Regions from separate parts of the Homo sapiens genome. Here regions 2 and 3 are each linked to region 1. The links come from fine-mapping of genetic effects on gene expression. A gene starts in region 1. Each other region holds a variant in brackets. All regions are shown on one strand. Distances are between the middles of the regions. Region 1 holds the start of ACOX3 (acyl-CoA oxidase 3, pristanoyl). Region 2 has its middle 62 kb from the start of TRMT44. Region 3 has its middle 32 kb from the start of LINC02517.

The links.
Region 2: its variant is fine-mapped to the expression of ACOX3 in whole blood (TOPMed, PIP above 0.99). The same link has a PIP of 0.9 or more in testis.
Region 3: its variant is fine-mapped to the expression of ACOX3 in blood mononuclear cells (TOPMed, PIP 0.98).

Annotation. Positions count from the first base shown.
Region 1 is chr4:8,433,609-8,444,130 of GRCh38, reverse strand. ACOX3 (acyl-CoA oxidase 3, pristanoyl) reads left to right here and starts at 3,408. Exons shown (of 18, transcript NM_003501.3): 1 at 3,408-3,483. TRMT44 (tRNA methyltransferase 44 homolog) reads right to left here and starts at 3,354. Exons shown (of 11, transcript NM_152544.3): 1 at 2,690-3,354. The coding sequence starts at 3,308. RefSeq lists silencers at 2,941-3,000, 3,051-3,260 and enhancers at 2,729-3,462, 3,281-3,520, 7,825-8,004, 8,305-8,644.
Region 2 is chr4:8,497,635-8,508,156 of GRCh38, reverse strand. It overlaps a transcript of TRMT44 not described here. Among named protein-coding and RNA genes, the nearest start is that of TRMT44, 62 kb to the right of the region's middle. RefSeq lists enhancers at 3,088-3,975, 9,006-9,506. The variant G/C (reference allele first, on the strand shown) is at 4,423.
Region 3 is chr4:8,347,310-8,357,831 of GRCh38, reverse strand. It overlaps a transcript of ACOX3 not described here. Among named protein-coding and RNA genes, the nearest start is that of LINC02517, 32 kb to the right of the region's middle. RefSeq lists an enhancer at 3,993-4,543. The variant C/T (reference allele first, on the strand shown) is at 5,175.

The DNA of each region.
Region 1 (10,522 bases):
TAGATGAGAAAACCAGGCGTTCAACAGATTAAGTAATCTGTCTCAAATCCACATAGCCTCAAACTGAATTCTGTTCTTTAACTAAAGAAGTCAAGTTCTTAACCACTATGTCATCCTGTCACCTGCTACTAACAGTTAAGATTTCTTAGTCACATTCCTTTTTTTTTTTTTTAGACTGAGTCCCCGTCTGCTGCCCAGGCTGGAATGCAGTGGCACAATCTTGGTTCACTGCAACCTCCACTCACCGGGTTCACGTCATTCTTCTGCCTCAGTCTCCTGAGTAGCTGGGATTACAGGCACCTGCCACTACGCCTGGCTAATTTTTTGTATTTTTAGTAGAGACGGGGTTTCACCATGTTGGCCAGGCTGGTCTCGAACAGTCACATTACTCTTAAGACCTTCGTGATCTTACCCAGAATAGGGCCAAGAAATATACAAAAGTTGCAAGAGCATCTCCACTTCACACAAACAGCAGCTAGCATTTATTAGGCACTTACCATGTGCCAGGAACTATTCTAAGCACTTTACAATGTATTAATTCCATTTAACTCTTCCAGCAACTCCAAGATATTTTATTATTATCCTATTTTACAAATGAAGACACTGAGGCACAGAGAGGCTCTATAACCTGCCCACAGCCATACAGCTTGTAATTGGCAAGACCAAAATTCAAAGCCAGGCTGTCTATATTCCATGGAGGATACAAGTCCTCTGGTGAGCCTTCCTGGCGGGAACTGAATATAGAAAGCAATCCTGAAAACGTACTCCTTGTTGAGAGGGAAAACTGCCTCCCTGAGAGGAAGAAAGGAAAAAATTCTGTCCTACCCCTCTGTTCAGCGAAGTCTACACATGAAGGCCTCACGGGCACTGCCTCTCCAATCCTCAGTCCAGTGGATGGACAACGTAAAATGGTTAAGATTAGAACACAGTTGATAAGAGCTGGAAGAACTCCTAAACTAGACTGGACTGGCAGAGAGGCCCCCTGGAGGAGAGGACACCTAGAGTCTTACAAAGGCACAGAGGCAGACAGTATTGGGAGCCATCAGAGGGGACTATGTACCTCCCAGCAATTGCTGCCTGAGGTAGGCAGAAGAGCCTCCCAAAAGTGTCCATGCCGTAATACCCAGGACTCGTGAATATACTGTATTATATGGCAAAAGGGGCACTTGCAAACATGATTATGGTTACAGACCTCAAGAGGAAGAGTACTCTGGATTATCCAGGTGAGCCCGGCCTAACTCCATGGGCCACGAAGAGCAGAGAATTTTCTCTGGCTGGAGGCGGAGGAGAGAAGCAGCAGGAGAGGAAGGCAGAGAGATTCCAAGTATGAGAAGAATTCAACCCCATTGCTGGCTCTGAGATGTAGGAAGCTGCATGAAAGAACCAGAAAGAAGCCTCCAGCAACTGACAGCCAGCAAGGGAACAAGGACCCCAGTCCTACATAAAAAATTGGATTCTACCAACGAACTGAATGAGCCTGAGAACAGATTCCTTCCCAGAACCTCCAAATAAGAGCCCAGCCGGCAGGCTGTTTGATTTTGGCCTCGTGAGAGAGACCCACAGCGGAGAAACCAGCAGAGCCAATGGGGATTCCTAACCTACAGAACTGAGACAATCAATTTTTTGTACTGACCAATGAATTTGCAGTAATTTGTTACAGTGGCAATACGAAACACATGCTGCTGAATAAAGTTTCAGGTAAGAGTGGCTGAGGCTGAAGTGTCAAGGTCACGGGCAGTAAAAATAAATGCCAGAGATTTAACGAACGCTGAGGACTAGTAGGTTCCCATCCATCCAGTCTCTATGCTCTTTCACAGTTATTTGTCTCAGCATAAATAGCTCTCTTTATGTTGGGGAAAAGGCTTATGGCATGCCTGTATAAACTGGCCATAAAAATATGAGACAATAAGTTGTGGAAAGCCACAAGAGGCCTCTGAGGAGGAAAGCCTTCTTATTGTCATGATGTTCCCATGCTCTGGGCGAGACCTACTGTCTTACCTATAAACACTGTGTTCAAGGAGAAAGACACTCCTTTGAATCACTACAATGTGGTCAGACATGCAGGCTCCTAGTTAAGCACGCTCCCACTGGTTATTCTCCGACAAGTTAAAGATAACGCTGTTTGAGCACAAAGGAGATTCATTTAAACCGCCACTGCTATAGATGACATGTATGATGCACTGTCTCCCTTTCACCCTTTCGCCCCGAACGTCCGCTTCTTAGATCTAAGTGATTGTACTCAATAGTGTGGAGACCAGAGCTCCCAGGCTTTGGCAGCCTCCATTTTGCAATTGGCCCCCTGGCCCCCAATCTTTATGCACTCTTAACCTGTCTCGTCTCATTCCTTCGTCGCCACCGGACTTTGAGTACCCTACGGGTGGTGTTGAGGCTGGTCCCCAACACTTTTACACCTACAGCTTTACCTGCTAAACTCCTAGGTATTACGCAATATCCAGCTAGTCCTTCACTGTCTCTTTGAAGCCTTCCAGACACCACCCCAATCAATTATCCCATCTTCTGTACTAAGGACACACATTTCTATGCGCCCACTCAAAAAACTATGAAACACCTAACAACCTCCCTAGGACATCGCAGAGGAACTAGTACCCTTAGGACTTTTTCATTGACCCGAGGTTCTATGAATGCTTTTTTATCTAATCATATCCGTCCACTATCAAAACACTCTTACCTTGCACGACTATTTCCCTCCTGGGAGTTGTAAGGGGGCAATGTGGGCTAGTTTTCGGGATGACGGTTCTGAGAACCACGTCGAGCTCACGCTGCGCCTCTGGCTGCGATCCCGCCCCGGAGCTGGTGAGGAAGGCCAGCAACTCCGAATTGCCACGGGCGAGACTTTGGGAGAAATCCTCCCAAAGCGAATCCAGATCTGCGGCGGGGAAGTCGCCCTCCCTTCCTTCAGCATGGCCGGGGTGCCCGGAGTCCCTCAGGGGCACTGAGGCGGCTTCCCTCTGTGCCTCCTCTTGCTGGCACTGGCCCTGGGCCTCCTCAAGTTCGCAACATGCCGTGCCCTGCTCGGGTCCTGATAGCGACCTGGGACCCGGGCCCCCTCCGGGGGAACCCTGGCCGGGTCCCGGACCCCGCTCCTTCTGCTCCGAGCCTGCGCTAGTCCCGGGGCCGCGGGCCTCCGCGCAGGGCAGGGCGGCGCTCCAGCGGGCCTCCAGGCGGGCGCCGCAAAGCCGTTTGTTTGCCACCTGCGGCCTCTCCAGCCACACTTCGACCGCAGCCCAGAAGCCCTGTGGGAGAAGCGCGCCTGGGTAGCTGATCCCGGTACGGCCCACCTCAGCCATGGCAGCCAGCAGGTGTACAGCCCTGGCAGCGGCGCGCCGAGATGACGCAGCCCGGTGGCGCGGCGCGTTGACGTCATGGAGGCGGGGTGCTGGGACCGGAAATGAGAATGGCGCCGCTGGAGATCCTTTCCTGCTTTTGGTTTCCCTGGCAGGGGTTGAACTGTGGAGTGTGTGGGTGAGGAATTTGACCTGTGTTTTATTCCCTTTTGAGAGAATTCTGGGCGTGGTATAGTTACAGAATCAAACATCAGCCAGCCAGCGGGTGTGGAACGCATTGTCCTCAGTACTGATTACCGATAAAAGTCAGGGAGCCTAAGTTTGTGAACGTAAAAGATGAGTCCTCTTATGAAAGCTAACTTTTCTCCACTTGGGTTCTGGTTTGCTTTTAGTGCTGGCATTACAGCCAGTGCCTTCCTAAGTCTGAGTGCAGCCATGGCTGTTTCATAAGAATGATGTAACGTTGTCCCATGAGGGATGAAAGTCATCTGTCACCTACTGTAGCAGGACAAGCCACAGACAAAACTCCTCAGACACCGGATTAAAGAAGAAAGAGGTTTATTCGGCCGGGAGCATCGGCAGACTTGCGTCTTAAGAGCTGAGCTCCCCAAAAAAGAAATTCTTGGCCTGTTTAAAGGCTTACGACTTTAAGGGTCCACGTGAAAGGGTCGTGATAAATTGAGCAAGCATGGGAAACGTGACTGGGGGCTACATGAATCAGCTAACAGAACAGAAAGTTTTGCAATGCTTTTTTCATACAATGTCTGGAATTTACAGATAACACAAGTAGTTTAGGTCGGGGGTTGATGTTATTATTATTATTTTTTTTAACTCCTAGGGCCACGTGGTGGTGCCAAGGTTGTCTGGCTATTTATCTGACTTTTGTTTCTTTCTAACTTTTTGCTTTCTCTCTTTTCCTCCTGTCTTATGAACTAGGCAAGGTGGCAGGGAGGAGGGCAGCAGGAGTAGTAGTGGTCTCCTTATCCCTTCCTTTGAGAATTTTCACAAATTAGTGGGAGTTCTCGCTTTTATTTTTACTTTGAGTCTCTTTGGGAGACAGAGTGATAGTGTTTTATGTAATACACTTGCAGTGAGGGTTTTAAATTCTCTTATAGCTGGAAACTATCTTTTAAATAAAGACCTAGGATCAAACCTGTGTTAAACCAGTACAGGCACATGTGCCAACTTTGTCATGTCCTAAGCAGGTTAGTTTTTTTACTGGGTCTTAAAAGCTTTTTTCCTAGCAAGCAACACAGTATTTCTTAATAATAGGAGTTTTTAAGAGCCAAATGCTTGAACTTGGCATCTGCTTGGGGAAAGAGTTAAAGTAATCTTGAGGCATTAAATCTTTTGCTTCTCAAGGCCATTGGTCTCTCATGTTAGCCTTTTTATAAACATAACATGAAGAAACGTCTAGGCTGCTGGCAATGTTTTCAGCCAGCTGAGCAAATAGGTTGTTTGTTTGTTTTGCTAAAGGAGGAGGCTCTTGTAACTTCTGGTTTATGTGTTTAAAGAATGACTTAAAGACTCGGAATTGTTGCTGGGCTGGACGGGTCTGGGTTTCCTGACTAAGTAGTATGTGTACAATGGGGACACCTTATATAGGTGTTTCTTCTAGCATGGTTATGGGGGGTAACAATAACAAAACAATATACAGCATATTTGTATCCAGCAAGGACAAAAGAGGTCCTTACCTGGGAAAAAGATTGAATACAGTGACAGAACAATAGGAAAACAGTATTACAGGAAAACTATTAGTCTTAAGATTTTTAACTACGTTTACTTGCTTGACAAGTCCTCAAGCTTCGGCCATGCGTAGACTATTCAGCTGCCAGTGCGTGACTAGAGCCGGGCTTGTTGTTTCTTCAAGCTTCAGCCGTGTGTAGACTGGTCAGCCTCCGGAGTGACCAGAGCAGGGCTGTCGTCCTCAGCAACAGCTTGGTCTCGTCTCCGAATCAGCCGGGTAGGAAGATCTGTGTCCTGCTGGCTGGTCTACTTGTCCTGAGCTGCCAGTGTTAGCTGACTGTGATGGATCTAAGACACAACACCTGCAACTTTTAACAGCAGTGGGAGTGGAAAAGATTACAGTATAAGGCCCATCCTATATGGGTCCTAGAAAAATTAGATTTTACTTTTTAACTTAAACAGAGTCACTAGATTTAAAGGGGTGTCAGGCTTATAGGCATTTTTATGTATTTAATTATAAACACTTTGTATGGCTATTTCTAAAATCTGCATTTGCTTTCTTAAGGTTAATTCCTTTAGTTCTTGGAGGTCACCTTTAATTTGACCTGTGATTTGGGGGTGGCCGACCGAACAAAATCTTATAGGGTAAATACCTAGTTTGTTTGGTGAGGGTGCAGCTGACTTGAAGGAGGACCATAGGCAAAAGCCTGATTTTATCTTAAATGAATTTCCTGGCAATATTTTTTTCAGTAGCTGCTCGAGTGTCCAGTTCATGCACTCCACTTTTTCTTGAACTTTGCAGCCAATAGGCTGTGTGTAACTTCCATTTTATTTTTAACAGTCTTGTTAAATCCTGCCCTATTTCAGCTACAAATGCTGGCCTATTGTCTGACTTTAAAGTTAGAGGCAGTCTAAACCTGGGGATAATGTCTTTTAACAATACTTTAGTCACTTCTTGTACTTTTTCTGTCCTGGTGGGGAAAACTTTAACTTACCCTGGAAAGGTGCAAACAAGCACTAGCATGTACCGATAGCCTCCAGCATGAGGCAGTTCTGTAAAGTCTATAAGCAAGTTTTCACAAGGTATGGCTCTTTTTCCTGTTTAAGTTTCTTAGAGGAGGGGTTCTTTTTCTTTCCCCCCTTTGTAACTCTATCTAGTGGCTTAGCCATCAGTGAGAAATTGGAATCCAGATATGGCAGAATCCTGCTGCTTTTAACTTCTAATGTGACAATGGGCTCCTGGGAGCCTAATAAGAAGGTGCCTAGTCTGCCCTAGTCTTTACATTCTTTAGCTCCTGCCAGCCTGATCAGATCAGTATTTGGTTCCTCCAAGGTGCGGCAGCCCTTGGCCAATGGCCTCTTTGTCTTGCAGCCTTGGCCATTTCTTTTATTGCCTTCTGAACATTCACCCTTCTAGTGTCCTTTCTTTTTTCATCTCACACATTAATGTCTCTCTAGCCTTGGCCGGCTCTCGAATCCTTGCCTAACTTGACTTCTTCCACGTCTACATCCGTGTCCACGTCCTCTCGCATTGCTAATCTCTCTTTTTATAAGAGCTGTTGCTAACAGATTGGCCTTTTTCCTTAAGTCTTTGTTTTTCTTTTTCCTTCCTGAGTTCTCCTGCTTCTATGGCCACCTGGCGGGGCCAGGCAGTGGCACAGGCCCTGCCCCCGCGCACTGCTGTCTCTCCCATTTTCTTCTGATTCTCTTTTTTACACTTACTGTGAGTCTTTCTTTTTGTTTTGCTCTTCTCTTGGCACCGGTCTCTAGCCTCCTCTTTTTTTCTAGATAGAGCTGAGCCGGGGAGAGGAATTTAACCCTTGGCGTGCCTAGCTGCCGCACTTGTTGCTTTTGCTCTTTCCTGTTTTGTTCCTTGGTCACAGCTAACATACGCCTTGGTGGCCACTTTTATAGACTGGGTGATATTCATGCCTGTAGCTTCTGCTTGATGTTACCCTGGGCTTGCTTTACAAACGAAGTATTCACTATATATATATTTATATATATATTTACATATATTTTTTTACATATATATGTAAATATATATATTTACGTGTATATATTTCTATATATTTACATATATTTGTATATATATATTTATATATATTTTTTCGAATATATATATATGCTGATTTTTTTTTTTTTTTTGAGATGGAGTCTCGCTCTGTTGCCAAGGCTGGAGTGCAGTGGTGTGATCTCGGCTCACTGCAAACTCCACCTCCCAGGTTCACACAATTCTCCTGCCTCAGCCTCCCGAGTAGCTGGGACTACAGCTACCCGCCACCACGCCCAGCTAATTTTTTTGTGTTTTTTTTTTTTTAGTAGAGACAGGGTTTCACCATGTTAGCCAGGATGGTCTCGATCTCCTGACCTCTTGATCTGCCCACCTCGGCCTTCCAAAGGGCTGGGATTATAGGCGTGAGCCACCAGCCTCAGGGTTAAATAGGATGTAAAGCCAGAATGCTTTACAGAGTCTCTTATAAAACTGACTTAGGCTCTTGTCAGCTCCTTGAAGCACTTCTGAAATCTTTTTTATATTAATTGCTTTTTTTCTACTACCTCTTAGCCTCTGCAGAAGTGCCTCTTAGTACTGCTGCAAATGCTGAAGCTGAGTTGCATTCTCTGGGTCTTTTTTCCCCTTTTTCCTAGATCTTAACAGGCCCTTTTTTAAATATAATTCTCCATGCAGTTGGAGGGTTAAACAGGCATACTGAGAGTCAGTGTAAATGTTTAGTCTTACCTTCACTGAGTTCTAAGGCCTGAATTAAAGCAATGAGCTCAGCTTAACGACAGTGTCCAGGGTTATCACTGCATATCCTGCACATCTCTCTCCTTGTGGGTTGATGAAGCTGCTCCCGTCCATGTATAGCTCCCAGTCTACTGATGCCCAAGGCTGGTCTCGGAGGTCAGGTCTGCTAGAGTAAACTTGAGTCCAACACCTCTACACAGTTAATGCTCGACAGGGCTCTAGCTGCTGGGAACAAGGTGGCGGGTTCAGGGTGTTTCCAGTTTAGTAGATCAATGGTTAAAAAGGGCTGATAGATGAAAGTCTGTTGCCCCACCCCCTGGATGTGGGCTTGGTCATTATAATAGACAGGTCCTCGTGTCTCCCTGAGAGGCATTTGCATAGCTCCAGCAAGACCAGATCTGAGAGGGCCCACTTGACTATCTTGACTTCCTTCCTTGGCCTCTTGAGGCTCCGATCTTCCCCTTCAAGGTGAGACCTGGGGCATGTTAGCTCCTTAATCTCGTTTCTCAGGGGGCTGTTGGCCTCGGTAAAGGGGGGTAGGCTGGGCCATATGGAGAAAGAATTTCTGTTATCTCTGGCGGCTCCTGCAAAACTGGCTTCTCTTGCTCTTTCTGGGACTCCCCTTTTCAACTCTGTGTCTGCTGGTGCAGCTGTTCTTACTTTCACTTTTGGCTTTTTTGCAATAAGCTGTTAAACAGGGCTAAATTTATGCTGGTTTTTGTCTATATTATATTTAACCATGAATCAATATAAAGGAATTGATCTAGGTCCACTGGCTGTCCTCCAACCCCTGTCACCACCTTAAATACATGGCCAATTGTTCCCTGTCTGTAGTTCCTTCGGTGGGCCATCCAACACCAAAAGAGGGCAATTCTTTTTTTTTTTTCTTTTTTTTGAGACGGAGTCTCGCTCTGTTGCCCAGGCTGGAGTGCAGTGGCACAATCTCCACTCACTGCAAGCTCCGCCTGCCAGGTTCATGCAATTCTCCTGCCTCAGCCTCTTGAGTAGCTGGGACTACAGGTGCCCGCCAGCACGCCTGGCTAATTTTTTGTTTTTGTATTTTTAGTAGAGATGGGGTTTCACCCTATTAGTCAGGATGGTCTCAATCTCCTGACCTCGTGATCTGCCCGCCTCGGCCTCCCAAAGTGCTGGGATTATAGGCGTGAGCCACCGCGCCCAGCAAAAGAGGGCAATTCTAATTCACATAGAGTTCTTAACCTCTGGGGGCTTAACCTCTGTAATCCCCTGCAAAACCTTTCTTAAGGTTCTGTAACATGCATTTTAATAGAGTAAGTTTTGATGATTAGATGACTTTCCTTTTATTTTTCTTCTTGAAATTTTTTTTTAACACAGTTTCTAGCGGAGTGGGCTTACTTTGTGTTTGACCTATTTTTCTCTTGAGACAAAACAACATTCACACTACAAGAAGGAAAGGGTAAAAGGTTACTCACTCGTCTAATTCACACTAAAGGAAAATCAAAACTAAAACCAAAGTGTCATTAAAGGCACACCTGTTTGTCAAGGAATTTAAGCCAAGTCAAAATCAGAACCAAAGCCAAAGTGCCAATAAAGGCACGCCTGTTTATCAAGTAATTCAAGTCAAGTCAAAAACAAAAACCAAAGTATCAAGCATTTCAAGTCAAGTCAAAAACAAAAACCAAAGTGCCGGTACAGGCACGCCATGGGTGATCAGGCCACGCTTCCACTCAAATGGAGTGTGCAAGTTCCAAAGACCAGTCTTACCAAGTTTCAAATGTCCAGACTTAAAGTGCTAGTTCCTTCCCAGTGTTCAGCCACTGCGTTGATCCTCCACGGGGGCTTGCCATGCACCACTCTGACGAGGCATTCCACGGGGGCAAATGCCTACCCGGGAGCACTCTCAGGATCTGCATCGCGCAAGCTGGCTGGAGCCCCCCACAGGGATGCTCTACAGGGCAGGCATAAGCTGCCTAAGGGGCTGGCTTGAACGTCCCTTAATCACCTCGCTTCTCAGTCAGGGAACCAAGAAATGTAGCAGGACGAGCTGCAGACAAAACTCCTCAGACACCGGATTAAAGAAGAAAGAGGTTTATTCGGCCGGAAGCACTGGCAGACTTGTGGCTTAAGAGCGGAGCCCCCCGAAAAAGAAATTCTTGGCCTGTTTAAAGGCTTACAACTTTAAGGGGTCCATGTGAAAGGGTCGTGATAAATCGAGCAAGTGTGGGAAACGTGACTGGGGGCTACATGGATCAGCTAACAGAACAGAAAGTTTTGCAATGCTTTTTCATACAATGTCTGGAATTTAAAGATAACACAAGTAGTTTAGGTCAGGGGTTGATGTTATTATTATTATTATTATTATTTTAACTCCTAGGGCCACGTGGTGGTGCCAAGGTTGTCTGGCTATTTATCTTACTTTTGTTTCTTTCTAACTTTTTGCTTTCTCTCTTTCCTCCTGTCTTATGAACTAGGCAAGTTTGGGGGTAGGAGGGCAGCAGTAGTAGTGGTCTCCTTCCTTACTACATGTCCCCAGGAGGAACAGAGAAGGTTGGATACTGCCAATTTAGCCCAACATTATCAGCAGCTGGTCTGCAGAATCTCTAGTAAAATCCAAAAACCTCCAATATTCTTAATTACTTTTGTACATTAATCCCTCCATTGGGATTTTGCCATTCCCTAAAGGATCTCTGTCGGAGTAAGAAAAGTGAAAACTAACTCAAATCATGTGATTTATTAGAGATAAAAGCACAGACCAAATGTTGGTAGAATTAAGTAAAAGGCAAATGAGACGTATCCTCCCAGA
Region 2 (10,522 bases), 64 kb before region 1:
GGCAGGCAGATCACCTGAGGTCAGGAGTTCGAGACCAGTCTGGCCAACATGGTGAAACCCCATCTCTACTACAAATACAAAAATTAGCTGGGCATGGTGGTGGGCACCTGTAATCTCAGCTACTCGGGAGGCTGAGGCAGGAGAATCACTTGAACCTGGGAGCTGGAGGTTGCAGTGAGCCAAGATTGCACCGTCACGCTCCAGCCTGGGCAACAAAAGCGAAACTCCATTTCAAAACAAAACAAAACAAAACAAATCAAAGCAAAAACTGCCAGATGTGAGGCCACACCTAAGCTTCCCAGGGGGCCTGGGCTTTCTGGGCTCAAGGCTCTGCCTGCTGCCGGATCTGTCACTGGGGGACGGGGCAGGGGTGAAGGAGCGGGGGCCGGAACACGCTGTGTCTCCTCAAGTTTTTCCTGGACTCCTGTCTGTACATGGAGCGACAGCCCTGCCTCCAGGTGACCAGGGGCAGGACCCAGGATCCCAGCAAGCATGCTTGTTTGAACACTTTTTGGATGCAAGTAACAGAAATGAATTCTGGCTTCAGCCAGGAAAGAAGAAAACAGAAAGAAGGAGAAAGAGGAGAAAGGAAAGGAGGGGAAAGGGGAAAGAAAGGGGAGGGAGATGGCAGGATGGTCCCAGAACCCACAGGCAAGGATGCACGCTGAGCTCCGGAACGCCCAGAGCAGGCGCTGGGGGAGGATGGGAGTGCTTCCCGCACGCAGCCTTCCCTCCCGGGGTTTTCAGCCACATCCCTCTGGGTACAGTGTTACTCAGCAGAATAATTCACTGCCAGGCGATTCTGGGCTTCTAAACTATCAGCCAGCCCCTCAAATAGACTTGTCCTTCTTCGTTCACTTCCCCAATGTGGACACGCCCTGGCCTCGCCTGGTCGGGGGCCCCCATGGTGTGAGCACGTCCTCTGCTGTGCCCACATAGGCCAGGGCTGAGGTGGAGGGAAAGAGCCCCCTGTGCCTGCTCGGAGCCGGCCACACTTCTGCAGGGAACACAGCTCCATCCAGCTGTGGGGGCTGAGCTGGGAAGCCCTGAAAGGTGCCTGCTGGCCTCCAGGCCCAGGCCAGGTGGGAACCTGCTGTGGTCGCAGGCCTCCTTGTCCCTTCAGGCAGCAGCTGACTCCCTGTCCACAGCCAGCTGCGTTCCAGTGGGGAAGCTCCATCCCAGGCCTGTCTGATGACAATTCCACAATTCCACCCACGCTGCCTCCAGGAAGCTCTGCTGATGAGGTTCCCGTGGCCCTGCCTGTTGCAGGCGGCTGACCGAGGGCCAGCAGCCCAGCCAGCCCAGCTCACCAAGCAGCATTTCTCACTTGGAGCACGGCAGAGCTGGAGTTGTTTTTATATTTGTGCCAAGAAATGGCTCCAAGCACTGCAGACGTGGGCTCTGGCGGAGCCTCCAACAGGGCAGGCCACGCGGGGCCAGCAGCCTCCTTCCGCCCAGGGGCTGGCCCAGGAGGTGAGAATTCCACAGAGAAGTGCACACGTAGCACTTGGCCCGCTCCCCCTGGGGCAGAGCCATCACCTCCCAGCCCGAGAGGACCCCAGGCTGAGGGGGGAAGGGGCTGCCCAGGTCACACAGGGACCCTGGAATGCGGCAGAGCCCAGCACCAAAGGTTAAGTGAGGCCAAATCAGCAATGAGCATGGAGTGGTGCCCGGGCTGGAAGGACAGTCACTACCTCCCACCCCAGCAGGCGGCTGAGGGCTTCTTTGTTTTTGGTGGAGTCAGGATCTGGCTAAACAGACTGTTAAAGAAATGCGGAATTCCAGTCCATGCCGTTTTCTGGGTAACAGAGGGTTTAGGAGAAATCCCTTCTGCTCCACTTCTGTTGAAAATATTTCTGCACTCCAAGCGCCCTCAGCAGTGTCAGCAGGGCACAGCCCCTCAGCAGCTTGTGACACCCACGTGCCCTGGTCTCAAGGAGGTCCCCAGACATTGCACTGAGCACCAGGTCTCCTTGTGAATGTCCCCATGAGAGCAGGGAGTGCCCCTTCTCTAGCTGGTGTCCCATGTCCTCATCAGGAGCACATACTCAGGGCCACACAGCCCTCGTCCCCAACTATGGTGCTGTGATTTGCTGTGTGTATTCGTCCATTTTCACACTGCTGTGAAGAAATACCCAAGGCTGGATAATTTATAAAGCAAAGATGTTTACTTGACTCACAGTTCCACATGGTTGGGGAGTCCTCAGGAAACTTACAATCATGGTGGAAGGGGAAGCAGGCACATCTCACATGGTGGCAGGAGACAGAAGTGCAAGAAGGAGGAAGAGCCCCTTACAAAACCATCAAACCTCATGAGAACTCCCTCACTATCACCAGAACAGCATGGGGGAAACCGCCCCTGTGATCCAATCACCTCCCACCAGGTTCTTCCCTCAACACCTGCAGATTACAATTCAAGATGACATTTGGGTGGGGACACAGAGCCCAACCATATCAGTGGCCTTGAGCAAGTGTCTCAGCCTCTCTGTCTCTGCTTCCTCATCTGAATGAGAGGGTGACAGTGAGGACTCCCATCTCTTAGGGTTGCATGGGCATGAAACAGTGCAGCTAGTGCAGCGGAGGGCAGGCACATTTGCTGCTCCCCTTCCCCCACAGGGCGTGACTCATGCCCCCCACACCGGCTGCCTGTCCAGGGCCACGGAGGAACCCTGGGGATCTCCATCCACCCTACCACGTCTTGCAGACTAGGATGCCCGGGCTGCAGAGGTGCTGGGAGGTCAAGGTGGCAGAGCTGGGGCTGAGTGCTGGCCTCCCAGGGCAGGAGGCTCCTCCTGCACCCTTGAGCCTGGAGCACCCTCCCTGCATCTGGCCTCAGTGCACCTGACTTCCCACAGGCAGAGATGCCACCTCCTCAGGGGCTGCAGCCTCCTGTTCGCAGATGGAAGATGCAGCTCTGAGGGGTGAGGAGTCACAGCCGGAGCAGCACCCGGACAGAAGCCTGCTCCAGCCAGTTTCTGCCACCTCTGTCCTATCTCTCCTTTGAAAGGTGAGGGACAGGGACCTAGAGAGGCTGCCAGGGCCCTCAGTGTAGCACCGCCTCTTCCTGAGAGGTCACGCAGCCAGGAGAAAGGACAGATCAGCTGTTGTTGGTGGAGGGAGTGGGACATGGAGGGGGCATTCCTCTGCGGCTGGGGGCAGCATGCAGGGGAGGGTGGGTAGAGCAGAAGGTGAGTAATGACCAGAATCAGCAGGACCCAGACCAGGAGGCTGGGGGAAGTGGTAGATACAGCAACAGGTACCCTGCGGGGGCCTATTTAGAATCCAGAGAAGTGGCGTTCAGCCCCAGGGAGCTCAGGGACTGGGGTGGTGAGGCAGACGGGGCTGGCACTGGCAGGGCAGGGCTGCCACCATGGAGTGCAGTTTGCAGGTGCAGCCAGGGTGCCTGGGTTGTGACAGGGGCAAGAGCAAGGGTTTGGAGCAGACCCTTGAGACCCCAGGAAGAGCTCTGCCAAGCTTCAGTGCCCTCTTCCCCACAGGGAGGATGAAGGGAACTTCCTCCCGGGTGGAAGAGATGAGCTATTGAAGGTGGATACAGACTTGGCGCAGGTCCACACCCAAGGATTGGCAGGACCTGTGCACACTACAGACTCGGCACAGGTCCACACCCAAGGAATGGCAGGAGCTCCGTACACGCTGGGGGTCAGCATGGAGCCCAGGTCTGGACACAATGAGTGGGGCGGGGCAGGAGCTGCTGGCTGAAAAGCTGGAGCTGGCACAGCTCCAGGGGAGGAGGGCAGCAGCGCAGGCCCGGGAGGAAGAGGGAAGGCAGTAAAGCTGGCGCGGGTACCTGGCGGGGAAGGGAGCAGGCACGGGCAGAGGGGATTCCCTGCCTTAGTGAATGGGGGCCATTGCTCAGCCCTGCAGGAGCGCAGGAGACTTAGGTGGGCCATGGGGAAAGCCGAGGAGGTGGGGACATGAGCAGCATGGAAATGGTGCTGAATCTCAGGCTGAGGGGCTTACACCATGCCATGTCCATTCCATGCAGTGCAGACCCCTGATGCAGCCCCTGCCCCGCCCTGAGACCCTCCCAGCAGCCACCACCAAGATGCCCACCAACCTCAGAGGCTCAGAGGCTGGAGGGGGAGCAGGAGAGAGCAGGTGTGGACGGGTGCGGGGACTGCAGAGGGCACCACAGGCTCGGGAGCCTCGGGGGAGACGCTCTGTCCCATAGCTTGGGAGCGAGGCCAGGACAGGCTGAGGTTTGCAAGCCTTGGCACCGAGGTGCGTGTGAGGGCTTGCTGGAGACGAAGCTAGCCAGGAGGATAAGAACAAGAGGGGCTCAGAGCCTTCCGGAACTCCAACATTTAGGAGGGTGAAGGGGAAGCAACCAGGGCACTGAAGAACAGCCAGAGATGCGGGGACATAGGACAGAACTGGGAGCCAGGGCCCAGGCCAAAGCAA[G/C]AGAAGAGGAAGCTTCTGGACGGGAATTCTGTTCCCAAGAGAAGCCCTGTGACCACCTGACTCCCGTTGATGGCAGGAACCCTGTGTGGGCATCGGGGTGGAAAGTTCTCTGCACCTTACTGGGTGCTGACTCTTTGCTGTGTTCTCTGAGGTATGTGGCCCAGGAGTTCCACCAAACCCTCCATCCGGGTGGCTGCCTGAGATCATTCTGCAGGCTGGGGCCACAACAGAGGCCACCTCTGGGACCGAGTGCTGTGTCCCTTGCTGGTGGGTGCATGGCCCTGTGCACACTGTCAGCCCAGTGTCCTCCACACCTGGGTCCGGATTCCCATGTGGGTGATTCTCTTGCTTTAGGCTGCTTCCCCGGGGCAGATGCTTGAGCCGGTCCGACTGCTGCAGCCACGGCCTAGGGTCTGCTGGGATAGAGTGCCACCCTTTCCGGGGCTGTAGGGGACAGCTTGCCTTGCAAGGTGAATGGAGTAGACCCTCAAGGGTGTGTGTGCAGAGCGGGAGAACACCCCTAAATGCGGCTCCTGCAGCCTGGGGAAGGGGTCGGGTTTCTTTGGCTGAGAATTGTCCAGGAACCCCTGCCAAGTCCAAGTCCTCCCTCTACAGATAATGAAGCAGAGACCCAGTGGGAAAGCAGCCCAGGGTCACAGCCAGAAACCAAACCTTGGCCTCTGCCTCTCATGTGGGAGGTGAGGGGTGGGGAACGCCCCCTCAACCCATGACATTACCTCATCCCGATGGTATTCAAGCCTGTGCTGAGTCTGTGTGTGCCTGTGTCTGTTGTGTGTTCAAGGGTGAAGAAGAAGTGGTCTTGGGCCAATCCAGAGAGTGGTGGGCAGACCCTGTAGTGGCCCATGTTCCCCACCTCCTGGCACTGACACCTTTGATTAATCTCCCCTGAGTGTAAGCGGGATCTGGGAGCTGGGACCTGGGACCTGCGTCTCACCAATAGCATCCACCAAGGCAATGGCACTGCTTCCTTGACAGCCTTGCATAAGATCATAACTGGTTGTGCTGCTGTGTGTGAGCTGGCCCTGGGAGAGGGCCTGTGGCCAGGAAAAATCAACCCCACTTTGCCAAAGAGGAAACTGAGGCACAACAAGTCTCTGGCCAACAGCCAGCAAGGAATCGAATACTGCCAACATCCTGGTGAGTGTGGATGCAGAGCCTGCCCCAGCTGAGCCTCGGCTGAGACCAACGCCCTGGCTGGTACCGTGATTGCAGCCTGATGTGACCGTGAGCAGGGAACCTTGCTAAGCTGCACTCACACTTCAGACCCACTGCACCATGAGCTAAATATGTGTCCTTGAAACCACTAAGTTCGTTGTAGTTTTTTAAGCAGCTGAAGATTAGAAATATTCAGAAGCTTCCTCTCCCTCCACCTGACCCCCTGCTTCATCAGAGGATTGCAGATGTGGTCAACAAACACCAACAGGAAGAAGGCAGGGCAGGGTGTCTATTTCATGGCGGCTGCCTGTCCCGAGGACCATTCCCATGGATGCACTCAGGGCAGTTTCTGGAGTCATTCCTGGCAGAGTATTCTGAAAACACACCCATTAACCTTCAGGGCTGATATCAACAGGAGCCCCCGTTTTATGGGTCAGAACCATTTTGGAGAATGTCACGTTATGACTCACAGAACCAAATTTATTCTCCCTCTTTGAACAAAACAATCAATAGCCCTTCTGTAAAATTCAGCTGCTGCTCAGAGGACCAGTTGTCTGTCTCCTCCTGGGAGAGGAGTTACTTCCCCAGGGACCCGGGAAGAGGCGGGAAGCCAGCTGTCCCCAGAGTGGCACCAGTCTTCTCAACAGAGAGATGTGGGCAGGGGTCAGGACCAAGAGCAACTTCTGGAACCTTCCAGGCAGCCTTCTGGTTTTTGGATGGAGAGGCTGGGGCCCAGAAAGGACAGGGGCTGCTGAGCTCACAGCCGATGGCAGCAGAGCCCTTGAGACTCCAGTCACTGAGGGCCCCAACTGAGCACCTCCCAGCTAGCTCCCCATAAGAAGAAAGAAGGGAAGAAGGGGAAAGGAAAAGGGAAAGGGGCAAAGAGGGAGAGGAAGAGTCCAAAAACATCTCAAATAGCAAAGGAATGTCCCGTCTGCCGGAGCCTGGTGAGAAGGCCCTTGTGTGAAATCGCTAACCCTCACTGAGTTCTCACAGTGGCCAAGTGCCCGCTAAAGCTGTTAGGCTCCAAATGTACTCAACCTTCTCAACAATCCTCTGCCAAGATTATCCTCATCCCCATTTTTCCCAGGAGGAAACTGAGGCACAGGAAGTTGAGTGACTTCCCCAAGGTTGCAAGTTTTTGAGGCAGAGCTGGAATTTGAACCCAGGACATCCGGTCCCAGAGCTCATGCTGCTATTAATAGCAGCAGCCTACATACCATCTCTCAGACTTCGAACTGCAGGGGCCAACTGGGGGTGGGGTCTCTCCTGCCCCACATCCCCCGATGGACCAGGGGTCCCCTCAGGCCACCTGCCAGCTCCACCACAGGCCACCTCCCGCCCTGCACATGCACAAGCCATCACCTCTGCTGTCACTCTATCCCCAGCACATGGAATTGCCGGCCATGCAGTAGGCACTCAATTGGATCCACTGAGCAGTGGCACGACCACCTGCCCCACAGCTGGGGGCCTGGCAGGGCTGCATCCGGGTTTCTGGCCCAGGGCAGAGCTCCCTCATACAGTGCTTCCCAAGCGTTCTCACCCCCACACTGAGGAAGTGGTTCTATCTATGGGTGCTACAGCACAGGGTGGGGGTCCCAGCATCACAGGAAACACACCTGTCTTCCCAGCACCTTGGGAGGCCAAGGAGGGCAGATCCCTTCAGGCCAGGAGTTCAAGAACAGCCTGGTCAACATGGTGAAACCTCCGTCTCTACTAAAAATACAAAATAATTTAGCTGGGCATGTTGGTGCACACCTGTAATCCCAGCTACTCGGGAGGCTGAGGCACAAGGATTGCTTGAACCCAGGAGGTGGAAGTTGTAGTGAATCAAGGTCAACGCCACTGCACTCCAGGCTGGGCAACAGAGTGAGACTCTGCCTCAAAAAAAAAAAAAAAGTAAACAGTGCCTGCCAGACACTTGTGAAAGGTGGCAAGACTGGCTTCATTCAGACCCCTGGAGTGGGGAAGAGGTTCCAGGACACACTGAGCTGAGTCTCAGCTAAGACTAAGGGGACTAGGGCTTTTAATTTATTTTATTTTATTTATTTATTTATTTTTTCCAGAGGGAGTCTCGCTCTGTTGCCCAGGCTGGAGTGCAGTGGCATTATCTTGGCTCACAGCAACCTCTGCCTCCCAGGTTCAACCGATTCTCTCTTATGCCTCAGCCTCCTGAGTAGCTGCGATTATGGGTGCACGTCACTAAGCCCAGCTAATTTTTGCATTTTTAGTAGAGATAGGGTTACACGATATTGGCCAGGCTGGTCTCGAACTCCTGACCTCAGGTGATCCACCCGCCTCAGCCTCCTGAAGTGCAGGGATTATAGGCATGAGCCACCGCACCCAGCTGTTTTTATTTTTTTAGAGACAGAGTCTCACTTCATTGCCCAGGCTGGAACTCCTAGGCTCAAGCAGTCCTCCCTGCCTCAGCCTCCAGAGTAGCTAGGACTACAGGCACATGCCACCACTCCCAGCTAATTTTTAATTTTTTTCATAGAAACAGGGTCTTGCTATGTTGCCCAGGCTGGATTTGAACTTCTGAACTCAAGCAATCGTCCTGCCTTGGCCTCCCGAAGTGATGGGATTACAGGCATGAGCCACTGCGCCCATAGGCTGAGAGCTCTCTCTCTATTTTGGCTTTTATTTCTTGTTCAAGGGTACATGTGCAGGTTTGTTATATAGTAAACTCCTGACTCAGGAGTTCAGGGTGCAGATTGTTTCATCACCCGGGTACTCAGTGTAGCATCTGACAGTTTTGTGTTTTCTTCTGAACCCGTCCCTCCTCCCAACCTCCTCCCTCAAGTAGGTCCCCATGTCTGTGATCCCCCTCTTTCTGCCCACTGTTCTCATTATTTAGTTCCCACTTATAGATGAGAACACACGGTATTTAGTTTATTGTTGGTTTCATCTTTGGTGGTGGTGGTGAAAGAGGCATGACACTAAATCGACCCTCAGGACACACTAAATCGACCCTCAGGACACTCCCCTCCCTCCCCACCCCACACGCCCCAACACACACGACCTCACCCCTGCCCACCCCCACACTCAATTCTAAAGGGAGAATAGAGACGAAACCAAAATTGGAGGGTTGAAGAAGAGGGAAGGCAAAGGCCTGAGGCTCCGTGGATGGAGAAATGTATGGCAGGTGCAGGAGGACAATTCCTGGAAAGGGTTTGGCCAGGCAGGCTGCGGTTTGGCAGCATTGCATTTTCTTGTACAACACCTCAGCTCAGGGGCTGGGGTCACCTTTAGAGACACGGCCCAGGGCAGGGGGCCCAGGCTGAAGATGGGGCAAGTGTCTCAGCACAGTGTTGGGGCAAGTCTCCTGTGCCGGATGGGAGTTCACAGCTCACCCCAGAGCCCCAGGACCCTAGAACCCAGAGCCACATCTCAGGAGGCCACCTCTAACCCAGGCCTCCTTGATGGCCACACTCTGAAGCTCCTGGGGAACTGAATCTCCAGCCCCTCCTCCTGGGCTGAAGGCCACTGCTGCAGCTGCCCCTGCTGCAGCTGTATCTGCCCCTGCTGCACCTGGAGCCACAGAACCACAGAGAGGGGAAAAGACAAACTCACCTCCCACGAGGGACCCCCTTACCTCTCAAGCTCCAGCTCAAGGGTACCTCCTCTGGGCAACTGGACCACGCAGGGACCACCAGTCCCCGACAAATATAGAGGGCCCCGTGGCTCTAACTGTAAAGGTGGGGTTCACTCCCATGCCCCCTGCCCCTGTATCTGCTGACTCCCCACCCAGAACACATCGCCCCTGGCATCTCCAGACAGGGCACAGTGGCATCGCTTCTACTCACAGACCATCAGCCAGACCTGTGGCCCAAGCTAACACAGGCAGCTGGGAATGAGGGGAGGCGTGGATATTGGGTAGGTGTGGCTGTCTCAGCATGGGACCCTCCTTCAGCACCCTGGCAGGGGGAGACACCGCATTTTATCAAATCTAAGTAAACAGCAGGAGGCATCATCCTTTCCATAACACTGAGAAAGAAAATCGCTGCCCCTCTCTCTCTTCCTCCTGCACTGGCCATATGGAGACATGCCTGCTTTCCCTTTGCCTTCCGCCATGATTGTAAGTCTCCTGAGGCCTCCCCAGAAGCTGAGCAGATGCCAGCATCATGCTCCCTAGACAGCCTGCAGAACTGTGAGCCAATTAAACCTCTTTTCTTTGTAAATTACCCAGTCTTGGGTATTTCTTTATAGTGATTTGAGAACAGACGAATACAGGAGAACACCCCTACAAGAAGGGAGGTGCACGAGGTAGAATCTGCATTTACTCGGCTTTCTGGAAGAAACTGCCAGACCCTGCAGTGCACAGGGTGCAAATCAAGCAAAATGTCATCATCTTCATACCCTGAGGAGTCAGGGGATGGAGTTCACAGCTGCCCAAACTACTGAAAATTGAGGAGAAAACCCCGGAGAAGGGGAACCCACAAAGGGAGGATCTCTAAAACCTGCATGTCCACTCTCCTGACGTCTTCCACTGAGTCCTGATTTGCACTGGAGTGGGTGGGAGTCCACAGAGGCTGGGGAGGGACAGTGAGAAGCATAGCTGAGCAAGGCCATGCTCTCAGCCCAGCAGAGGGCACAGCTCCTGCTCCCTGCCCCTGGGATTTTCCCAGCCCCCCCCACGCCAGCCCCAGTGGCACAGCTCCCATACACCATGCTGTGCAGGTAGCTCAGGTGGGCAAAGGGCAGAACCCTGAGGGGAAAATCCTCACTGCCTCTCACCTGAGTGGCATCTGAAATGTTGTGGGAAATAGAGAACTAGAGAGACTAAAGAGACTGATATGGAGAACAGGAGGATTGTTTATTTTAAGGTACACACCAGCTCAGTGGACTCACATCTAAAAAGCTGAGCCTTGAACAAAGACAGAGCAGGGTTTTTTTGTTTGTTTGTTTGTTTTTGAGATGGAGT
Region 3 (10,522 bases), 86 kb after region 1:
TGGGCATGCATATTTATCAATGTGAAAGTGTTGTCTGTGGGCGGCGGAGGGCTTGGGCCGTGTCCAGGCCACGCACTGCAAGGGTGCAGCCCCCACACACGGTCCCTGCTCCTAAAGCTGTTGCCCCCACTGCAAGAGTGGAGTAGGTTGAGGTGTAGCCATGACATTCTGGAAACTACATTTTTTGTAATAGTCATTTTGAAAATAAAACATTTGAAAATACTGTGCAGCAAAAACTTGAATAATTGGAATAAAAATGTTCAGTTTAATGTCATTGCTTGCTGCCACCGTTTTCTGATTGTAAAACTAACGTGATTATTAGGTACTATTTTGGTAATGTAGAAAACTTTAAAGATGAAAATAGATATCACTTATAACTCCACATGGAGAAATAGTTGCCCCTCCAATTTAATTGATTTACTTTTGGGCCACAGGGGCCCAGAATTTGATTCATTGTACTCCTTGGTTCATGCCAGTGTTCCTGCACCCAGCACTGAAGCTGAACATTGACAGTGATTTGCCCCTGCCCCAGAGTCCTCCCTGCATTCCCCTCGAGGGCCCCCGTCTCCTGGCCCTGGTGTCCACTTTTCTCTCAGCTGCTGGGAACGTGTTAGTGTGCACTGTTCTCCTTTCCCTCACCTGCTGGCTTCATGTTAGCATGCACCGTTCTGCTCACTTTCTTCCCCTCACCTGCCGGGATCATCTTAGCATGCACCATTCTGCTCACTTTCTTCCTCTCACCTGCCAGGATCATGTAAGCGTGCACCGTTCTCCACACTTTCTTCCTCTCACCTGCCGGGATCACGTTAGCATGCACCATTCTGCACACTTCCTTCCCCTCATCTGCCAGGGTCATCTTAGCATGCACCATTCTGCTCACTTCACCTTCTTCTTCTCGCCTGCTGGGATCATGTTAGTGTGCACTGTTCTGCACACTTTCTTCCTCTCCCCTGCTGGGATCATGTTAGTGTGCACCGTTCTGCACACTTTCTTCCTCTCACCTGCTGGGATCATCTTAGCATGCACCATTCTGCTCACTTTCTTCCTGTCACCTGCTGGGATCATGTTGGCGTGCACCATTCTGCACACTTTCTTCCTCTCGCCTGCTGGGATCATGTTAGCGTGCACAGTTCTGCATACTTGCTTCCCCTCACCTGCCAGGAACAGGTTAGTGTTCCCCATTCTGCACACTTTCTTCCTCTCACCTGCCGGGATCATGTTAGCGTACACCATTCTGCACACTTTCTTCCTCTGTGTACGTGTGTGTGGTTTTCCTTTCAGAAATGGGTCATACTCTGTGGACATCTTTTTCCACTTAAAGTGATGGCACAGCCATTTTCCCAGTCAAGTAACATGAATGTACAAGTTTAGCAAACTTCCTCCTGAGAGATGGAGAGATCAAGGCTTCTGCTCCGTGGCAGCCATCCGTGCACATGCATCACTGTGCGTGAGTTGGTCCCAGTGGCTTGCTGAGACATGCTCTGCACAGGGGAGATTTCTTATACCAGCAGTGTGGGAGGCAGTGGGGCAGGTAGAGCCACAAGTGGGGATGAGGGAGCAGAGTCTAGGGCAGGCTCCTGGATGGACACCAGCTACACTGTCTATTGGATGTGGGACTTCCCTCACTGATGAAATGAATAAGAGAATCTTCCTCATCCTGCTGTTGTTGGCGTTAAAACGGGTTAATGCATGAAAGCAACAAAGCCCGGCCTGCAGACAGCACATGGTAAGTCTCCTCTTCCCAGCATGTTCAACAGGAAGCCCTCATTCCCTCTAGAATGTAGGAGTCTTGCCAGCAGTGGCCTGTTTGTTCTCTGCCTGTTGCCGACCTGATGAGAACATAAAATTGGTGTCTTCTGTATAGATTTCCTTCTTATTGCCCCTACTGTGGCTGAACATACCTTCCCCCGTGCTTGAAGTCTGTTCATATATGTTCTGCTGTGATAACTGCCCATTCTTGTTCTCTATCTAAGAAGGCATTTAGTTTTGAAAATATTTTGTTGGCTTGTAAGATATTTGTACATATTAAGCACAGCAAACCTGTAACATATTCACTGTAAATCATTATTCCTCATGCATCATTTGCCATTTAACTGTATTTTTTTCCTTTTTGATGTAACCTGCTATAGTTTACATTTTTAAATCAGAAATGCCTGCACATTTTAAAACGAAGACTCTTATGCTCTAGCCTTTGAGGTCATGCTTGGAAAGTCCTTTCTCACACAAAGATTATTTACACTTTCATCTCTTTTTCTCTGAGTACGTTTCAGTGTTTAATTGACCAGGAATGTATTTCGAGGTGTGATATGAGACAAGGATCTGAAATGCTTTGCCCACTGAATCATCATGCACTGACCGAAATGCCACCTGTATGAGTGCTAAAATCATTGTCGCTGGACCTGTGTCTGCACTGTTTAATTTTAGTGTTGTTTCTCACATCAGCTTCTGTTGTTTTCATGGTTGTGGTTCTCATACTTTTAATATCTGTTGGAGCAAATAAAGCCTCGTTTCTCATCTTTTCCAAAAATGTCTTATGTATGTGAACTTTGGTGTTATTTGTCAAGTCTGGGCATTCTCCCACCCCCATATTAAAGAATGCTCTCTGGAGTTTGTCTGGAGGTTTTGTTTAACTTTTAGATTCACATCAGGAGAATCTTTGTCTTCATGGTAAGTGGTCTTCCCATCTAAGACTATTTCTTCAAGCTGTTTGTAATAAAAAGCTGTGTGATTTTTGTATGTTTATTTTGGTCACCTTATTGAAACCTTATTTTAATTATGACAGTTTTTCATTGATTCTCTTTGGTTTTCCTTCTCTATCATTGGCAAATAGTGATGGTTTACCCTTACCCTTCTGATATAGTTTGGCTGTGTCCCCACCCAAATCTCATCTTGAACTGTAGTTCCCATAATCCCCACGAGTCATGGAAGGGACCTGGTGGGAGGTAATTGAATCACGGGGTAGTTACCTCCATGCTGTTCTTGTGATGGTGAGTGAGTTCTCATGAGATCTGATGGTTTTATAAGGGGCATTCCTCCTTTTAATTGGCACTTCTCCTTCCTGCCGTCATGTGAAAACGGACGTGTTTCCTTCCCCTTCCGCCATGACTGTAAGTTTCCTGAGGCCTCCCCAGCCATGCTAAACTGTGAGTCAATTAAACCTCTTTCCTTTATAAACTACCCAGTCTTGGGCAGTTCTTTATAGTAGCGTGAGAACGGACTAATACACCTTCCAAAACTTTTACCCGTCATTTAACTTTCCTGTCTAATGACATCTGCTGGCCCTGCGGGATCAATCTTTCACACCATGCTGGGGAACCATTGCTTGGTGTCTGCCATTATGGGAATGCCTTCAGCCTTCGTATTAGTTTGATGCCATGTGGACGGTGGACTGGAAAGACAGTCTTGCTTGGCAGTGGACACAAGTGTGTGCCCATGGTTGTGCCCGTGGCCAGAAATCTCTGTGACTCACCAAGGGAGATGCCTGCAGAATGAGAGAAGTTTCTCACTGTGAGCTTAAACACAGAGGGAGCTTCCTGCGGCTACACGGGGCCAGCTGGGATGCATGCCTGCAGAGACATCTCAAAACCACAGGCGGATGAAGAAGATAAAAATCAGCCAGACCCCATCATCTGTGAAAGCCCAGAAATATCTTGGGGTTGAGGTCTTTGCGGCTGTCACTGCTAAGGATCTTGATGGTGGCGGAGGCGTGGGAACTCTTTCATTTTAGGATGTGTAGTTGACATGGAGCAGCCTCTTGGAAACTTGGTTTGGATGCACTTCTGACGGCTCAGCCCAAGCGTGAATCACGTTCCCCCATCATTGTGTATCCACCCCACCCTCCAGGTTTTAGGTGGTTCCAGCCCCTGGGCTGCCGGCCAGCAGGGAGTGTCCATCTGACCAGCATTTAGTGAACACCTAGCTACACGTAGCACTGTGTGGGGACAGCATGTGCCATAGGACCACCTCCTCGTCACCAGAAACTGCCTTCCTCCTTGACTTTGTTCATGTGGGCCTTTTACTAAGACACTTCACAGGCTTTTCATGGGTCCCATGGGGCCGTGTCCCCATCTGAAGCATGCCCCAGCCATGGGTCCCCTGGAAGTCAGGGGGTCTTGGCTTCTCTCCTTGTGTGGTGGACCCTGTGGGCTTCCTGTCCAACTTCCAACCCTTCCTCCTCACTAACAGAACCCCAGTTCTGTCCAGATTTCTCCCCAGATGTGGACAGCCCCAAGCCTTGGGAAGCTGCCCTGCCCCAGCACTGGCACTGGTTCGCCTTAGCTGAAGTGCCCTAGCACCTTCCATTCCCTTGGCCCCAAGGACTGGCTCAGTGATGAGGCAAAGTCCAAGGGTCCTGTTGAGTCTTAAAGACTGGCTGGGGACGTTGGGACAGAAGTGGCCTCTCACTTCCGGGGGACATTGCCCTGGACACTTAGGAGCTTCAGGTGGCCTCAGCCATGGTGCCACCACGATGAGACCAAAGCCACCCTATGGAGTGGGGCATGCCATGGGAATCACGGACCACAGTGGAAGCACAACTACAGGCCGTGACTGCAGGAGGACAGGGCCCTGGATGGACGACAACTCTTCCCTCTCTGGCTTGCAGTTCTCCTGCAGAACTGACCGAATGCAACACCCTGGAAAAAGGAGGAAATGACCCGAACAGCCCAGGGTGTGGCCTTGGTCCTCCCAGATAGGATACTCTGCAACACGTCTGCTCGGTGAGCCCAGTGGTGCCCAGGGTATAAAAACCAGGGCAGAGCACTTTTGGGTCCCTCTGCAGTGCAAGGTGGGCATGCACAGATGCGACTCCGTCCACCCTGGGTGGCTCTCCTGAGCCCTGGGGCCATGGCTCGAGTGGAGCCCAGGCTTCTGTTTGGACTTGCTGCCTGCCTGTGAGCATCCTGTCTCTCTGGACCAGACCTAGGAACCTTGGAGGTGGCCTTCCTGGTGTGGGAGCCGCCTCCTAATTGCTCGAGGCAGCTGGGCAGGGTGCGACAGACTTCTTGCACGGAGCCCCAGCATTGGCCACGGTGGGGACTGCTTGGCCCCACAGGCACGTGCAGAAGAACCCAGCTGGGGGGCTGTGGCCCTGCCGGAGCCTCTACTCTCCATGTGAGGAGGGGAAGATGCGCTCAGTCTCTGGCCTGGGCGGGCCTGTGCCGCATGTGCTGTGC[C/T]GTGGTCCCCGGCACTCTCGCCTTTGCATTCCCCTCTGGGGCCACTTGCTGTCATGCAGCTTACATCAGAGGGTTTCCCTTGGGCTCTGGGCTTTGATCCTAAATCTGGGAAGTCAGGGCCACTCTGCATGAGAACCCAGAAACCGGTGTTCCTGTGGCTTCCAGGAAGGCCCCACCCACCTGCACCCATTCAAGTGCAGGGACTGACCTCAGCTCATTTCCATCCCACCAGGCTGTCCAGCAGCCGCCCAGGAAGGGACTTGGTTTGCTTTGTGAAGCTTGGAGGAGGATGTCCCCAGCTCTGCAGTGGTCAGTGGGAGCCCCGTGTTGTGTTGTGAAGGGAAAATGTGCAGTGACTTGTGGAAGGACCTTCCTCCATTCACCCCCTCCATGTACACCCTTGCCTAGGAGATAGACGAGGAGGTTTGCTCAGTCCCGGGCGGCTCTGTGCCCAGCCACTGCACTGAGTTTGGAACAAGGTTTGCTCAACCTTTTATGTGGTTCACAAGCTCCATCTGAATTCTTTCAAGCAAGGAGGCCCACATTGTGCTGAACTGTTTGCTTTGCAAGAGAAAATACACATCTAGTCTTACAGGGCCGAGCACTTGGGGAATGAAAACAACCCAAGAACAGCTGCCCACGCGTCCTCCCTGGGTGTTTGTTCTTCGATGCATTATTTGTTTGCCAAAAATTCTTGACATCTCTTGAATTGTTTTTTTCTTTGCTTCAGAGCAAGGCTTCTAAAAACAAAATAATTTTTTAGGAAGATTTTCCTACGTCATCATCCTTAAAGACCCTGGTCGATGTCTTTTCTGCCAGCCTTCGGGACATGGCACAGGAGCGTATAAAGCAGACAGGCTTGGGAGTTAGGCCCAGGTTCAAATCTTAACTTTGTCATTTGCTGTGAAGTGGCACATTGGGAATGTTTCTTAACCTTTCCAAATTGGTTTCCTCCTATGTAAAGGTTGTAGAACTACCTGCCTTCCAGAGTCCTAAGCATAGGCTGAGATAATATATGTGAAAGTCTCTAACAGTCCTGAGCACACAGAGGGGCTGTGGCTAGACTGGACCCTAGGAGCTGGGCCCAGGAAACTGTACTCCTTCTTGTACCCTTAGACATTTCTGATGGCCACAGTCTCAGGACCTCTGCCTATTCACTGGGCCTGAATTCTGAGGAGGAAAGGGGGGTGGTCAGTGTCCCTGGGGGCAGGGGAGGGGCCATCCGTGCGCTGGTGAAGCTGCTGAGGTGAGGACAACAGTCCCGCCCTGTGTTCTCTGTGTCCTTGCCCGTGTGTGCCCAGGCCGGCTCTGCTCTCGGCTTCCGGTTCTCCCTCCTCAGTGTGGGGCTTTCTCAGGATCTAGGGTAGCCACAGTGTGAGCTCTGGGCGGACCCTTGTCTGCGCATCCCAGTCCTGCACAGAAGGCCTGGCCCCTGCGGAGCCTGGCCTTTGTATCTGTGTGAGCACCACCCCTACACACCTGGCCATCTAGCCCTTCCCAACCCAGGACGGCTGGGAGGCGCTCCCCCTCTGTGCCCTCCCCACCCTTCCCCACGTCCCTGACCAGCAGCCTCTGTGTGGATGTGAACATAGTATAGGCGGCAAGACTCGAGTTTCCCCTGGCGTCAGGGTCACAGGAGCCTGTCACCTTCCGACCCAGCCATGGCCTGTTCTCCAGAAGGAATCACTTGGTGGGCCTCTGTCACCATTGGCTGCAGCAGCCCCAGCCCTCAGGACAGCACTGACTGGGCCTGGCCACTCCTCTCAGCGGCCTGGAAGCTCGTGGAGCCCAGGACCCAGGTCTGGAGGGTCCCTGTCTCCAGCTCCCAGCACAGGGCCGCACACAAACACTGGGAAAGCACTCAGCAAGCCCTGGAGTGGAATGGGGGAATGATGAACAAGTGAAGTGAGTGAATGAAGAAGTGAGTTAATGAATTAAAGGAATGAATTGGGCAGGTCTAGATGGTGAAGCAGGAAGGGGGCCATGCTGGCCAGTGCGCCAGTGCCGGACTTCCAGGCATGGCCTCGCCACTCCAACCAGTGTGGGTCTCTGCCCTCCCCACAGGAGACATGGGCTCTGCTGTCCCCCAACTATGGGCTGTGCATGAGGGGCCGGCTCCCCTCTGTTCCCCTGACCAGGGACGGGTGTCTCCTTGCTGTGCCTCTCGTAGGACCCGCGCGTGAGGGGCTCAGCTGAGGTCAGTGGTGAGCCGAGGAGCTTGGACGGAACCACCTCTACACCAGGCAGGACGTGTGGGCAGCCGCAGAAATCTTGCTGCAGTATGCCATGGCTAGATGGAGTCTGCCAACCAGGGAAAAGTCCACTCTTCCTTGCAATATCATTGCATTTTAAATTCTTTAAAAACCATCACCAGGAAAAAAAATTTAAAAAGCTGCGGCTCCCTTCCAGTCCTATTAAATGAGCAAATGCTCTTTCCAGAGATCCTTACTTGCCAATTACAGTAACTGAGGAATTTTGTAAGGTATGCATTTCTTTTCGCATATAGGAATCCTGTATAAAATAACAGAGCACTGAAGAAAGACTCTGAAACTGCCAAGGGAGGTCGGCCCGCTGCCCTCAGCCTCTGGCATTCTGCATGGGATCCTGGCCTCTGGGTGAAATGTGCTAGAGCTGGGCTTCAGAAACGCAGGCAGGTTCCTCCTGGCCCCTCCCAGAAGTGAGGTCAGCATGGGAGAAGCCACTCCAGGGAGGAGATGACCCTCTGCCTTTCCTGAGGGAGAGGAGGTCAGCAACAAAGACCTTGAAGGTCCCGGGTCTTCCTTTGCAAACACAATGCTGTGGGAGTCCTAGCTCTTTACATCCTTCCCTGGAGTGATGACCACACAAGGTGTTACAGGTTCAGTTGCATCCCCCTACAATTTGTATGTTGAAGCCCTAACCTCCAGGAGTGCAGTGGTGCGATCTTGGCTCACTGCAACCTCTGCCTCCTAGGTTCAAGGGATTCTCCTACCTCAGCCTCCCGAGTAGCTGGAACTATAGGTGTGTGCCACCACGCCTCGCTATTTTTTTTGTATTTTTAGTAGGGACAGGGTTTCACCATGTTAGCCAGGATGGTCTCTATCTCCTGACCTCGTGATCCGCCCACCTCTACCTCCCAAAGTGCTGGGATTATAGGCGTGAGCCACCACGCCTGGCCAAGACAGGGCTTTTTAAGAGGTGATTAGGCCGGGCGCGGTGGCTCACGCCTGTCATCCCAGCACTTTGGGAGGCCAAGGTGGGTGGATCACCTGAGGTAGGGAGTTTGTGACCAGCCTGACCAACATGGATAAACCCCATCTCTACTAAAAATACAAAATTAGCCTGGCACGGTGGCACATGCTTGTAATCCCAGCTACTCGGGAGGCTGAGGCAGACAAATCACTTGAACCCAGGAGGCAGAGGTTGCTGTGAGCTGAGATCGCGCCATTGCACTCCAGCCTGGGTGACAAAAGCAAAACTCTGTGTCAAAAAAAAAAAAGTGATTAAGGTAAAGTGAGGTCATCAGAGTGGGCTCTAATCCAGTCTGACTGGTATCCTTATAAGAGATGAGGACACAGACAGTCACAGAGGGATGACCAGGTGAGGACACGGAGGGAAGGTGGCATCTGCAGGCCGAGGAGAGAGGCCTCAGGAGAAACCAATCCTGTCGACACCTTGGTCTCAGACTCTCAGCCCCCTGAGCTGTGAGAAAATAAATGTCTGTTGTTCCAGCCCCCAGTCTGTGGAACCCCACTATGGCAGCCCCAGTAGACTGATAATCATTCATTCCCTGTGGGATTTTTGTGAGCCCAGCCAGGGACCAGATGATTCCACCTATTTTATTTTATTTTATTTTATTTTATTTTATTTTATTTTATTTATTTTATTTTACAGACAGGGTCTCGCTCTGTCACCCAGGCTGGAGTACAGTGGCACGAGCTCAGCTCACCACAACCTCTGCCTCCCAGGCTCAAGTGATTTCTCCTGCCTCAGCCTCCCGAGTAGCTGGGATTATAGGCACCCGCCACCATACCCAGCCAATTTTTGTATTTTTTTAGTAGAGATGGGGTTTCACCATGTTGGCCAGGCTGGTCTTGAACTCCTGACCTCAAATGATCCACCCGCCTCGCCCTCCCAAAGTGCTGGGATTACAGGCATGAGCCACGGCGCCCAGCTGATTCCACCCATTTTAGATAAGGAAACTGAGGCAGAGAGAGGCTTAGTGGCTCATCTGAGGTCCCTCTGACAGTGGGGCACACCATACCCTGGGGCCAGGTTTCAACTTCTGGTCCAGGCTGTCACCTCCCAGAGGAAAAAATCACACGGTTTAGGGCTGCTGGATGATACAGGATGTTCAAGGGAAGCTGTGAGGAGGCACGTGCAAGCCTGGGAGGCCCAGGGTACAGTTGGGGCCTGATGCAGAAGCCAGCGAACTGCCATCTCACTTCCTCTTCCACCAGCCCTCCAGCCTCCAGAGCCCATCCTCCAGTGAGGACGTGGGCCATAGGAGGTCAGGAGCTGGCATGCAAACTCAAGTTCACCAGGCTCCAAAGTGTACTAGGGTGTCGCTGGAGAGAAACTGCAACCAATTTATGATTTACAGGGTCGTTCGCGCACATTATCTGATACCATCACCTCATGCCCATCACAAGGTCAGGATGAGCCCCGTTTTCCAGATGAGGAGACTGATTTCCAGAGAGCTCAAGTGACCAGCCTGTAGCCCCTGAGTGAGGGAGGAGAGGAGCCCTCGCTGCCTCTGCCCTGGTCTCTGCCCCAAATGAGGAGCTCCCACGGGACTGGGCACTGGGCACTGGGCATGGGGTAGGGGACCTTGCAGTGCTGACACTCAACGCATCAGAAGGAGGTGCTGCACCACCCACCCCCCTGCCATGTGCTACAGAGAACCACAGGCAAGGGGCATGGAGACGACTCAGTGCTGTGGGCTCTGGATGTTCTGCAGCAAACTCCTCCTTCTAGAAGGTTCCTTCCCTCCGCCCTCACTTCTGAGATGGCGCTGAGTCCATGGAGGTACACAGGGAATTGATACCTGGTGCCACAGAACACAGTTGGGTGATTCTTTCTGATTCTGAGTACTTGGGACAGGCAGGGTTTTAAAGACTCAATCTAAGGAGCATGTCAAGGAACAGATTCAAGGTAGGCTTGGGGTGGTCCACCCTCACCAGGACCCATGGAGAAACAGGCAGCAGCTGGAGGCTCAGACCTCCCTCAGCTCCCCTACGGGGGTGTGTTCTCTGGCTCTGCAGTGAGGTAAGCCTACCCTAACCCTAACATGAACCCTAACCCTAACCCTAACCCTAACCATCACAGAAAGTGCACGGGGCAGAAAGGCAGAGGCTTGCGGTTCTGGT